Linked DNA regions of Homo sapiens. The protein of the gene in region 1 interacts with the protein of each later gene in a biochemical or structural test. Each region holds a gene or a part of one and is shown in the gene's direction. Other genes may lie near its edges.

Region 1 (3,301 bases):
TAGACTGTTGATCTGACAAGTCTATAATGACTTAAGTGATGCCATGATAAAACCAAAATATTGGGGAAAATATTTGGCAAATTATTCTAAGAATATGCCAATTTGGATAAAGTGGTCATTTGGAGAACTGGTTTTTAGGAAAGTGGCCTACTTACTCCACTGAGGCTGCTAGGGGAAATAGTCCCAGCCCCTCACAGGTATGGTGCCCATTCCAGCCATGAAGGCTGACACAAGAGGAGGTTGCCAGGAGCTCACCCATGAAGCTACCAGAAGAAGGCAGAAAACCCACTGTATGGCTATCCCATGAAGCTAGAGGAAGGGCAAGCTGGTGGGGGGACAGCCTCTGAGAGGCAGCATGGACAGACTCTGTCCTGCCAAAGTCCTCACACAGCCCACACAGGTGATTTGAGGTACACCCCAAGTGCCTGGCAGCTAAACACATTGCCATTAGTGCCACATCATTTAGCTTAAGGCTCTACTAAGTCAGTAATTACTTTAGTGGCATTATGAGTAAGTACAGATGAACTGGCAGTCGCTTCAGGAAAGGGACACATGGTGAGTCCTGATGATGGGCAGGGAGGGAAGGAAGGTGGGGTGTCGGGCCCTGCAGTGGGGTGTGGGGGAGCTGCAGAACTTGGGGCACTAGTAGGGTACACCATATCAGGCCAGGAGGAAAAAGGAGAAATCAAAGTTGGGGAGTGGTAGGGAAGGAAAAGGGTCTGTAGTGAATGGAACGTAACTCTTCCCTATTGGTGATTTTCCTTTGAACAAATGTTGGCCAAATTATTTTCTGACCCAGTACCCTCCTATATCAAAGAAGTGATGGGATGGTGGGAAATAAGCAGCTTTCCTATTGTTAAAAAAAAAAAAAATAAAGACTGGAGACCCCTCTAAGCCAGGGGTTTAATGGAGAGCCCTGGAAATGAAGTCTTTCTGTGGGCACCTGTCCCCTCAAGGCTGCACCTGTCCTTGGCAGGGATCTGGAGAGGTGGTCAGGGAGGTTGCTTGGAGAGAGGAGCCCTGAGCTTGTGCCTTATGTGTGAGTTAATGTGGCTTGAGTGTCCCTGGTGTCCCCAAGCCTGGCAAACTGCTGGGTTCAATGAACAACTTTCCCTTATAGTCCCTCAGCCCTGCCTGTCGGCCTGGCTGGGAACCTGGTGGCTGAGGCGCTGGGATCAGGGGGATCCTAGAGTCGTTGGGACCAGAGCAAGGGGGAATAGTGGCTAGAGGCCAGGCCAGGACATTGTGATTTATCCACAGGCCTTCTGACAGTGGCCCGCCCGCTGAGCGCTCCCCCTGCCGCGGCCGGGTCTGCATCTCTGGTAAGAAGCACAGCTACCCCAGCTGCTGGTACCCCTTGCCCAAGCACACGGCCTCCTGCCCCATCTCAACATCTATTCTTACCCCTCTGCCCCTTAGACCTCCGGATTCCACTCATGTGGAAGGACACAGAATATTTCAAGAACAAAGGTGGTGAGTTCCACACACCCTGGGACAAATTCAGGGGAATGACCCTGAAGTAGGAGGCTCTCGTGGGACGTGTTTTTTGTTTTGCCCTTTGTCCCCAGACTTGCACCGCTGGGCTGTGTTCCTGCTGCTGCAGCTGGGGGAACACATCCAGGACACAGAGATGATCCTAGTGGACAGGACCCTCACAGACATCTCCTTTCAGAGCAATGTGCTCTTGTGAGTACCTCACACTGTGGCTACCTCCTTCCTCCACTCTGCTCCAGTTCTGGATGAGCGAGTTCCAGGGGAGGAAGCTGGGATGGGGGCAGGGTGGAGAGGAGGGGCACCTGGCCTTCTCTGTGGAGCTGTCCTGCACTTGCCTCACCCACATCCCCTACCCTCTGCCTCCCTGGACTTTCCTGTGACCACCCTCCTTTCTTCCTCCCACCAGCGCTGAGGCGGGGCCAGACTTTGAACTGCGGTTAGAGCTGTATGGGGCCTGTGTGGAAGAAGAGGGGGCCCTGACTGGCGGCCCCAAGAGGCTTGCCACCAAACTCAGCAGCTCCCTGGGCCGCTCCTCAGGGAGGCGTGTCCGGGCATCGCTGGACAGTGCTGGGGGTTCAGGGAGCAGTCCCATCTTGCTCCCCACCCCAGTTGTTGGGTAAGGCCTTGCACACCGACACCACCCTCAGCTGCCTGTATTCTGCCCACAGGTGACCTTTGAACTGTGTTGAGTGTGCAGAACCCATTTTGCATTGCTGCCAGGATGTGCAGACAGATATGAATGAGCAGTGGCCACGTAGCTGGGAGGCATTCCAGCCCACGCCCCAGAGCTGGGCTGAAGCCAGTCCAGAAGACCAGTGGGAAGGCAGGGAGACTTAGGCCCTGGGGTCTTACCTTTTTAGCAGCAGCAAATACATTTTATTTTTAGAGACAGGGTCTCACTATGTTGCCCAGGCTAGTCTCGAACTCCTGGGCTCAAGTGATCCTCCCGCCTCGGCCTCCCAAAGTGGTAGGATTACAGGCGTGAGCCACAGCACTCAGCCTAGCAAATACATTTTATGTGGATAGAGCAGAGCTTCTTGGTTGGAGCAGAGTACCCTGGGACCTATGGTGGTACCTAAATGCACCTGGAGACACCGCATGGGACCACTGAGACTCTGAGAAGCAGTTTGAGAACCTTTGGGTAGTGAACAGAATACTGATTTTGGACATAGATATGGGTTCAAATTCAAACTCCCCCACTTTCCACCTATAAATTATGGGCAAGTTTCTTAACCTCTCTAAGCCTCAAGCTGCCTCATCTAGTTGAAGAATGCCACCAACCTCACAGGGCTGTCATAGGAATACAGTGGGATAAAACATATAAAGCATACGTCCTGACACTTAGCTGGAGCTCGGTAAATGTTCATTCCTAACCCTCTGGGGAGGCAAGCGAGTTTTCTGTGGGGCAGTCTGAACAATGGGGCAGATCTGCTCAGCCCTTAGAGTTCCTGCTGGCCAACATGCCCCTCCCTTGGCTGATGCTCTCTCCTATCTCCCTCAGTGGTCCTCGTTACCACCTCTTGGCTCACACCACACTCACCCTGGCAGCAGTGCAAGATGGATTCCGCACACATGACCTCACCCTTGCCAGTCATGGTAAGTATGTGTGTGCATGGGGGACATACACATGTGATGGTGAGAAGAGGGGCTGTGGGATGGTCCCCTTCTCATTCCCCTACCTCACCCTGCACTTCCTCCTCCCCCAGAGGAGAACCCTGCCTGGCTGCCCCTTTATGGTAGCGTGTGTTGCCGTCTGGCAGCTCAGCCTCTCTGCATGACTCAGCCCACTGCAAGTGGTACCCTCAGG
Region 2 (3,500 bases), on another chromosome or scaffold:
CCGGGACCGGCACACGGTGGGCCAGCGGACCCCCTCCAGCAAGCCCAGCATCAGCCTCTCAGCCCCCGACATCCTGCCTCTACACTGCACCATCCGCCGGCAACCGCTCCCGGACAGCGGCCAGGCCGCGGGGAGGCTGGTCCTGGAGCCCATCCCCGGGGCGCACATCTCCGTCAACTTCTCCGAGGTGGGGCACAGGACCGTGGTGCTGCACCACGGGGACCTGCTCTCCCTGGGGCTCTACTACCTGCTGCTATTCAAGGACCCCGCGCAGGCCCAGCCCCTGCCCGCCCGGGCCTTGGCGCGCCTCCGGGCTGTGCCGCAGAGCTGCCGGCTGTGCGGGGCCGCGCTCGGGGCCCGGGGAGCCGCCTCCCCTACTCAGGCCGCCCTGCCCCGGCGCCAGCAGCTGCTCCTGGAGTTTGAGCCCCACCTGGAGGACACGCTGCTGCAGAGGATCATGACGTTGATCGAGCCGGGGGGCGACGACCACAAGCTGACCCCCGCCTTCCTCCTGTGCCTCTGCATCCAGCACTCGGCCACCCACTTCCAGCCGGGCACATTCGGGCAGCTCCTGCTCAAGATAGCCAGGCTGATCCGCGAGACTGTCTGGGTCAGTGTGCTGGGGTGGGCGGTCTGGGTCCTGTGCCGGTCTGGGGGAAGAGGGGGCCCGGAGCTGGCCCCGGCTGGGAGGCGGGAGCGCCTCTATCTGACCCCCACGGTGCTGTGCTGCTGAGCGCAGGGCGGCCTTTCCCTGCCTGTCGCTGCCCCCCAGCCCCACAGGCCACCAGAAGCAGCCCCAGAACCCAAGGTGTCAGCTGCAGCCCTTTGCCCCTGAGGGTGGGGTTTGCGTGGGGTCCTAGGTCACCTCCTGAGCTCTGGGCTTGTACCCTCCCTGGGGTCCAGCTGGGCCCAGCACTGTCACGTGCCAGGAGTGAGCTGCCCCTGAGCCTGGGCACCACGAGGCCGAGGTGACATTGATAGCTCTCACAGGCCCCTGCCCAAGAGCCCCAGAAGCCCCTGTGTGTGCCGGCGCCCTGTGCTTGCTGCCAGGGGCCGGTTGAGCACATACCCGCTGGAGCCATCCCTGATCCGAGTTTGGAGGTGCAGGGCCCGTCACCTTTTGTGCGTTGACGAACTTTCCTCCAGGCCAGCCTCTCTCATCCCCGGCCCTGTGGACACTGTGGCAGGAGAGCTCCTTGCTGTGAGGCTGGCCTGTGCATTGCAGAGGATTCAGCAGCATCCCCGGCCTCCACCCCTAGATGCCGGTCACCCTCTGCCGCCCCGCCACACACACACACGCAATACACCCATGGCTGCAGGCATTGCCAATGTCCCCAGGAATCCAGTGTGGCCGCCAGTGAGCAGGACCGCCCTGGGCCCATGAGTGCTGGAACAGGCATCACACAGTCATGGCCCCCCGCTGGGCCCCACCCCACAGTGACTTGGCTCCCAGGGACCCGAAGGACAACTCGTAGTTGTTCAAGTTCGTTCAGAGACCCTCAGATCCTCGCTAGTCTGGGCCCCGCTTATCCCCGGCAGACAGGGGAAGGGGGAACCACTTGACTGTGTAGAAACCTTATCACTTTCTCATATCGAAATCCACATTTTAAATGTCTGAGACTTTTAAAAAGTAAAAGCCAGCTCAGGCTTCCCTGTCCAGATGTCAGTGGGAGCCGTCTCTGTGCACCGTGGGTGTTGTAATCTGGGTGTCCGTGCCTCTTCCCCTCGGGTTCCCGGCTTGGGATTTGATGGGAGTGCCACTGCAGCGTGCCCGTGTCCCCTCCGTGCAGTCATGGACACAGGGCCAGGTGATGTCCCTGTAGTGTGTGTCCACATCGTGGCCACTGTGACCGAGAGTTACCTGCTGGCCAGAAGTCATGGGTTTTCGCACGATCATTGTCATTTCCCGAGTCTCCTCTGCGCCAGGCACTTACTTGCAAACCAAACGCTGTTTAATTTCTTTATCACAACCACCCTGACGATGTAGATGCCACACCCCATGTCACAGCCAGGGAAACTGAAGCCAGGGGGCCGTAAGTCACTTGCTGAGGGACCCGGGTCCCAGCCTGTGTCCCAGCCACCTGGGGCTCGCTGTGTGGCTGGCCCACTCCCTGCAGCACACCAGGGCTCACCCTGCCCCTATGCTACAGGCTCTGAAACAGAGGCTCCCAGAGGTGAATTGCCTGGTCCAGAGATTGAGCTGATAGACATGAGACCGAGCCTGAGTCCACCTCTTCCCCCTGCACCCACTGTGGGAATCCGAAGCCTCCGCTGGGTGCTGTCCAGATCCCATGCGAATATCATTTGCGCGTTTGTTTCCTGAGAATGTGCAACTGTGTCGCCGCTGCCCCGTCCTCATTCCTTACCAAATATACACGCTTAGTCTACGCGCACTCAGCCATCACGGTTACATTCAGCCGGATAATAACTTACTACTAAGGCAAGAATAATTCTTTTTTTTTTTTTTTTTTTTTTGCTGAGACGGAGTCTCGCTCTGTCACCCAGGCTGTAGTGCGGTGGCGTGATCTCGTCTCACTGCAACCTCTGCCTCCCAGGTTCAAGGGATTCTCCTGCCTCAGCCTCCCAAATAGCTGGGATTATAGGCATGCGCCACCACACCCGGCTAATTTTTGTATTTTTAGTAGAGATGGGGTTTCACCATGTTGTCCAGGCTGGTCTCGAATTCCTGACCTTAAGTGATCTGCCTGCCTCAGCCTCCCAAAGTGCTGGGATTCCAGGTGTGAGCCACCTTGCCCAGCCTCTACTATTTTTTAAATAGCCGGTTGTTATGTAAGCTAGAGAGTTGTGAGATACTCTATTGTAGCAAACTTGTAGGTCATAGTCGGTAATGGAATGGGAAGATGTTGAAGTCACATGGAAAATGTCCTTTCCAGCACAGCTTGAATAAATAGTCAGCGTCACACAGGATGCCTGGGGCAGCATGGCTTGTTTTCCTGTCGATGGTATCGTGTATTTGAACGCGTCCCTGTGTTAGCCTGTTTTGCTCACTTGCTTTTTCTCCCGCTTTGTAATTGTAGGAGAAAACCAAAGAACTAGCAGAGAAGCAGGCGCAACTGTGAGTATGACCCGGTTATTGTGCCCGCCTCTGGGCAGCAGGTCCTGGGGGCTCACACTTCCCGGGGGAGCCAAGTCCCGAGGGGTCTCCCCACGCCTTGGGGTCAGCTCTGGGCTTTGTCCTTCCATCCAAGCAGCGGCCTTTTTTGCTTCTTTAGTCATCACCCTGGGAAGCTCTGAGTTTTGGGAAATTGCTTCAGGGCACCCTTAAGACTGGATGGGTGAGGTCTTCTTTTTTTGTTTGTTTTTGTTTTGTTTTGTTTTGTTTGCTCTATCGCCAGGCTGGAGTGCAGTGGTGCAATCTCTGCTCACAGCAACCTACACCTCCCAGGTTCAAGGGATTCTCTTGCCTCAGCTTCCCGAGTAGCTGGGACTGCAGGTGTGCACCACCATGCCTGGCTAATTTTTTTTTTTTTGTACTTTTA
Region 3 (3,500 bases), on another chromosome or scaffold:
CCTGGTCCCTGTGCCTGCTCTGCAGTCACTCCTTGTTCTGCATATGCGTACAGATCCCTCCAGGCCAAGCCTCTCATGGACCCTTCCTCCCAAGCCTGCAGTCATCTTGTGCTCTGCCCTCCCCATCATCTCCATACTCATCCTCTTGCCCTGCTCTTTCTGGAGACTCTCATCCCACTTCCCTCCTGGGCCTGCCCAAGTGGTCTTTTCACCCTGTCATCCAGCCACAGTGTCTACTGAAGCCCGCCGCTCCTGGAATTGCCAGGCAGCTCTTGCGTGCTCTCTTGCTGTTCATGTGTTGCTCTGTTGTGACTCTAGTTAAAGTGTGTGCTTTTTAATGGCAGGAACTCTGTGTTCTATTCTTTATTATGTTTCTGAGATTCCAGCACAGTGACTTATACCAGGGAGACGCCAGGAAGATCTTGCTGGGTTTTAGACTGTGTCTCCCTGCAAGGACTTTATTCATTTGGTGCAAGGGGAGGTTTACTGCATGTATCAACTAGGATATTGGTTTGACTGCTTTAACTGAAACCAAATAACAGTGGCTTAAGCATAATGGGCAGTTTATTTCTCTGTCATGTACAAGTCTGAGCTGTGGTTGATGTGGGAGAGGCATTGCGTTCTGAGGATCATCCAGGACCCAGGTCCCTTCCATCTTGTGCCTCTGCCATTTCTTAAGGGTTATCCTCAACTGCATGGCCAGAGCTGGCTCACAGCACTCACCTGTTCTAGCCGTGCAGATTGGGGAGGCCTCACCTGTCACTGGGCAGGTCTGGGTTACACTGACCACACCTTCCTGGGGAGTGGGAGCTTTACCTGCCAAACCCCAGAGGCTGCCTTGCCAGAGAGCAGAGGAGAATGGAGATGGGGCAGGGGAAGCAGGCGTCGACCCACGAGGAAAAATCAGAGCAGAAGGAAGCTCTGGGATGAGTGGTTGAGACCAGCTGCCTCTGGTGTTCACAGAGGGCATGGGGGGTGCTCATGCTGGACTCCAGGGGTGACGATGCCCGGTTGTGCCTGGGACACGAGATTTTCAGTGCTGAAGCTGGGGGAGTCCCAGGCAAACCAGAGTGGGCGAGGTCAGGGAGCGGGGTTCCCCAGCCCCACTCAGGTCCTCCACTCCAAGCTGGGTCCGTGACGCTGCTGCTCTCTCTCCCTCAGATTCGGTGAGCCTGGCCTATCAGCGGGTCCAGAAGGTGGACTGCACCGCTCTGAGGCCTGTCCTGATTCTGGGGCCTTTGCTGGACGTGGTGAAGGAGATGCTGGTGAATGAGGCTCCTGGCAAGTTCTGCAGATGTCCCCTTGGTAAGGGGCACGGGGCACCCTCTGTGCCTACTGGGCTCTTTGTCTCTATGTCCCTGTCCACCTGCCTGCCCAGCTGTGCACAGTGGGTGGCAGTACCGGGGGGCAGATTTCACAGTGTTCCAGAAGCCTGCTGACATGGGTCAGATTCATGCATGGCAGGACTGGGTTACTGACAGCTGCTGAGCAGTGTTCTTCCCCTGCTCCCTCTGCTGGGGCTCAGCAGGGCCTGGGGCTCCCTGATTCCTGTGTCTGTGCATTGCAGAGGTGATGAAGGCCTCCCAGCAGGCCATTGAGCGGGGTGTCAAAGATTGCCTGTTTGTCGACTATAAGCGGAGAAGCGGCCATTTCGATGTGACCACTGTGGCGTCAATAAAGGAGATCACAGAAAAGGTACCCAGGGCTTCAGTCTGAGGATTAGGCATCCAGTATTAGACCTCCTGTGCACAGGTCTAGGCCCCTGGTCCGTGATCCTCTGCCCCAGCGGCTCAGACCTTCAGTGAGCCCACCGTGTTGTGTTAGTCTGAGTTCACCTGTGCCTGGGCTTGCCCTCATGGCTGCTGTGTGTTTCTGCAAGCACATCCCTTGGTGGGGATGGAGGAGTTCCCCTGTGTATGTGCCGCCCCATCTTCCTCTCTGGCAGGTGCGGGGGGTCTCATCTCTGATGAGAGTATTGAGCTCTGCGGAAAGGCCTCTCGCAGGGCATTCCGGAACGGGGTCCCCAAATGCATGTGCCGAACAATTTCACATGCACCTTCTGGGGACAGGAACGTGCCTTCCCTCAGGGTCCCTGCCCCTAAAAGGGCTATGACTCTCGGTGCCTTCGAACATCCTAGGCAGCACGAGGGCGGGGACGTCTGTGGGGAGTGCTGGTGGGGCAAACACTCGGAGTCCAAGGACACAGCCGCTCCTTGGGCTCCATTTCTCCAGGCTGCTCAGCTCGCTCGCTGGGCTTTGCTTCCCTTCTCTGTTAGATGAAGGTGTTGGCTTCTCACTGCTGAAAGTGGGCAAACTCTACTTGGGGGAATGCCCCAGTGGAGCATCTGGGGGTCGGGAGTGCACGGGCCTGCACTCCACCTGGATGCCTGGGACGACAGACATGACAGACATATTTCAGTCTCAGCCACACAAAGGCTCACCAGACTCTGGCTCTTCATTCGCTCAGTCTGGCAAAAATAAGGCTTCAGAGGCCAGGGTGGGGCAGGGCTTTCAGAAGGTCCCTGTATCTGGGCAAAGGCGGGAAAGGAAGTTTGGAGTTGGGCTGGCCAGCACCCCTAGCCCCCTAAGCCCTGGCTCCCAGCCTTGGCCTTCCTCACAGCAAGTGGGGTTTGTTGGGAGTTTCGTGGGTATGGTTTCCCCACGGTGTACTGTGTGGCTTTACTGCCTTGTTTGTGGGTAGAGCCCTGTGAGGTGAGGTGGGTCCTGCTGGTGGCAGGACAGGGGGCTGGCTGCCCCTCACTGCCCGCCAGGGCTCACTCTGCACCCCCCACCCCAGAACCGACACTGCCTCCTGGACATTGCTCCGCACGCTATTGAGCGGCTCCACCACATGCACATCTACCCCATTGTCATCTTCATCCACTACAAGAGCGCCAAGCACATCAAGTAGGTAACTGGCCCCCTGGGCTCCGCTGGGGCCTTGTCACAGGTGGGGCTGGGAGCCCAAGTAGGGAGCAGGGTGTGTTGGGGTGGGGGGTTGAGGAATGAGAGATGGGCCTATGGGTCTTGAAATAGGCAGTACGTGTAGAAAATGACCCTTCCCTGTCGGCCCTGTCCCCTACTCAGAGGTGGTGTCAGCCAAGCGCAGCCCCTTCCTCGCGCCCCTCCGCCATTTGGGTGCTGCCACTGTTTTTTGGGCATGGCCAGCTTGGTCTGCACAGCTCCCCTCTCCTGCCCCAGCCCCCTTTCCTCGCTACGTGCTGCTTAGGAGCAGGGGAGCCAGTGGCCTGGGCACAGTCCCACTCAGCCCCGAGCTGGCTCATGACTCAGGAGCCGTTGCCTTCGCTGAGCTTCGGCTCCTGTGCTGGTTGGGCCAAGGGCTCACCAAGGCCCTGCTCCATTTTGCCTTTCTGTGCTGCTGAGCTTCTGGGACCTGCGCTAGGGGCTGCTGGTGCATCTGTTCCAAGTGTGTGTGCTGGGGGGCCCTCCTTCCCCCATCTGCCCAGAGCTCCCCCGACAGCCTACAGGCTGTTGCTGTG
Region 4 (2,387 bases), on another chromosome or scaffold:
ACTAGCCTGGACTCCAGTCGACTGAGCCCTGAGGTGCAATCCGTGGCAGAGAGCAAGGGGGACGAGGCAGATGACGAGAGAAGCGAACTCATCAGTGAAGGGCGGCCTGTGGAAACCGACAGCGAGAGCGAGTTTCCCGTGTTCCCCACAGCCTTGACTTCAGAGAGGCTTTTCCGAGGAAAACTGCAAGAAGTGACTAAGAGCAGCCGGAGAAATTCTGAAGGAAGTGAATTAAGTTGCACCGAGGGAAGTTTAACATCAAGTTTAGATAGCCGGAGACAGCTCTTCAGTTCCCATAAACTCATCGAATGTGATACTCTTTCCAGGAAAAAATCAGCTAGATTCAAGTCAGATAGTGGAAGTCTAGGAGATGCCAAGAATGAGAAAGAAGCACCTTCGTTAACTAAAGTGTTTGATGTTATGAAAAAAGGAAAGTCAACTGGGAGTTTACTGACACCCACCAGAGGCGAATCCGAAAAACAGGAACCCACATGGAAAACGAAAATAGCAGATCGGTTAAAACTGAGACCCAGAGCCCCTGCGGATGACATGTTTGGAGTAGGGAATCACAAAGTGAATGCCGAGACTGCTAAAAGGAAAAGCATCCGGCGCAGACATACACTAGGAGGGCACAGAGATGCTACCGAAATCAGCGTTTTGAATTTTTGGAAAGTGCATGAGCAGAGCGGGGAGAGAGAATCTGAACTTTCAGCTGTAAACCGGTTAAAACCAAAATGCTCAGCCCAGGACCTTTCCATCTCAGACTGGCTGGCCAGGGAACGCCTACGCACCAGTACCTCTGACCTTAGCAGAGGAGAAATCGGAGATCCCCAGACAGAGAACCCAAGCACACGAGAAATAGCCACGACCGACACACCTTTGTCTCTTCATTGCAACACAGGCAGTTCTTCCAGCACCTTGGCTTCAACAAACAGGCCCCTTCTTTCCATACCACCACAGTCACCTGACCAAATAAACGGAGAAAGCTTCCAGAACGTGAGCAAAAATGCTAGTTCTGCAGCGAATGCCCAACCTCATAAACTGTCTGAAACCCCAGGCAGTAAAGCAGAGTTTCATCCCTGTCTTTAAACTGGGGGTATGTCCACTCTAGCAAGTAAAAAAACTACTGTTACACGTTCCAGTAACTCTGTCAATATTTTCTTGTATCAGAATTGTTATTATGCAGCCTTCATTTGGGCTGGTTTCATCATTTTGCACTGTGAAATAGCTTTACAGTGCATTACTACAGCCAGAAGAACATATATATATATATATATATTTAAAAATATATCGGATAGTTGTATACAAATGAGCAAGGTATTTGTTGCAACTTACTACATAGCATATACCCAAAATCACTGAAGAAAATCGCTGGCATCAGTGTGCAGCAAATTTGTTCTTTTGGTTTCATCACTAACAAAAGTGCCTCATCATAAAAATACAGTTGGTTTTTAGGGTGCCATATTGTTAAAATTAGATAACTTACTTACATTGAATAAACGAATGCGTTTTATTGGTAACAGATATCATTACATTTACCAGTTTTAACACAGGTGGATACAGAACTTCCATTCTTTAGTCATTCCAGGTGGATCTGAGTTTTATATTCAAACTTTTAATACAGTTTTTGAGTTTTGTGTGACTTGAATTTTTAATCTTTCTGTAAAATACGTAACTTAAATGAACATATTAAATGTGTATCTTTTCTTCAGATACCAGATTTGATATAATGTTGTAACATAGGTGTGTAGATAGTGGATCCTGGATGGAACTGGCTTCTTTATCGAGAAGAATATAATTCTGCATGAGGACTTAATGAATCCAAACCTGTGTCATGCCTGTGTGCATACCCAATTAAACACTGGAAATAAAAATTGTTTTGGTGAATTTTGCATGGCTTGAAACTTATTCTGATATATTTTTAGATGTCATCCATTTATAACTACCTTACATGATTAATTGGTCCTGACTTTAAAAAGGTGCCTACTATATTTATACATTCCATCTTCTCCTCTTTCTTGCTGTGGTGGGTAGAGACTCTTTCTTACAGATGCTTACATTAGCCTAACCTCACTTGTTGACTGATAGTGTTTAACTCTTCTAGGTAAAGTAATGTATGTTATGTTAATGTTCTTTTCGTGAGTGAAACGAACATGAGTTTGGAGTCAGTCCAGCTCTACCTAGGTATGTGAACTTGAACACATTATTTAACTTCTCTGAATTTGTTTTCTCATATAAACAGTTAGTTACAGTAACACTACCTATTATAAGGGTGATTAGATTTAAATGAGATACTGTTCCACTTACAGTGCCTGCCACACACTAGTTTCAAAATAGAACAAAGCTATTGTTGGAAGTAATGGTTACAAAAAAATCTCAGACTGTTA

Evidence for each region. The genes of interacting proteins can lie anywhere in the genome.
Region 2: the proteins of RTKN (region 1) and RADIL interact in a test that uses a peptide from one of them, tested with the Homo sapiens proteins (one large-scale study listed by IntAct).
Region 3: the proteins of RTKN (region 1) and DLG5 interact in a test that uses a peptide from one of them, tested with the Homo sapiens proteins (one large-scale study listed by IntAct).
Region 4: the proteins of RTKN (region 1) and ARHGAP21 interact in a test that uses a peptide from one of them, tested with the Homo sapiens proteins (one large-scale study listed by IntAct).

The regions. Positions count from the first base shown.
Region 1 is NC_000002.12:74,428,637-74,431,937, reverse strand, and holds part of RTKN (rhotekin), read left to right. Parts: intron 1-1,260; coding exon 1,261-1,322; intron 1,323-1,419; coding exon 1,420-1,473; intron 1,474-1,568; coding exon 1,569-1,686; intron 1,687-1,900; coding exon 1,901-2,110; intron 2,111-2,995; coding exon 2,996-3,090; intron 3,091-3,200; coding exon 3,201-3,301. UniProt on the Homo sapiens protein: Mediates Rho signaling to activate NF-kappa-B and may confer increased resistance to apoptosis to cells in gastric tumorigenesis. May play a novel role in the organization of septin structures.
Region 2 is NC_000007.14:4,831,717-4,835,216, reverse strand, and holds part of RADIL (ras-associating and dilute domain-containing protein), read left to right. Parts: coding exon 1-610; intron 611-3,038; coding exon 3,039-3,076; intron 3,077-3,500. UniProt on the Homo sapiens protein: Downstream effector of Rap required for cell adhesion and migration of neural crest precursors during development.
Region 3 is NC_000010.11:77,794,256-77,797,755, reverse strand, and holds part of DLG5 (disks large homolog 5), read left to right. Parts: intron 1-1,161; coding exon 1,162-1,305; intron 1,306-1,567; coding exon 1,568-1,695; intron 1,696-2,797; coding exon 2,798-2,907; intron 2,908-3,500. UniProt on the Homo sapiens protein: Acts as a regulator of the Hippo signaling pathway.
Region 4 is NC_000010.11:24,583,114-24,585,500, reverse strand, and holds the end of ARHGAP21 (rho GTPase-activating protein 21), read left to right. Parts: coding exon 1-1,089; 3' UTR 1,090-1,887; downstream 1,888-2,387. UniProt on the Homo sapiens protein: Functions as a GTPase-activating protein (GAP) for RHOA and CDC42. Downstream partner of ARF1 which may control Golgi apparatus structure and function. Also required for CTNNA1 recruitment to adherens junctions.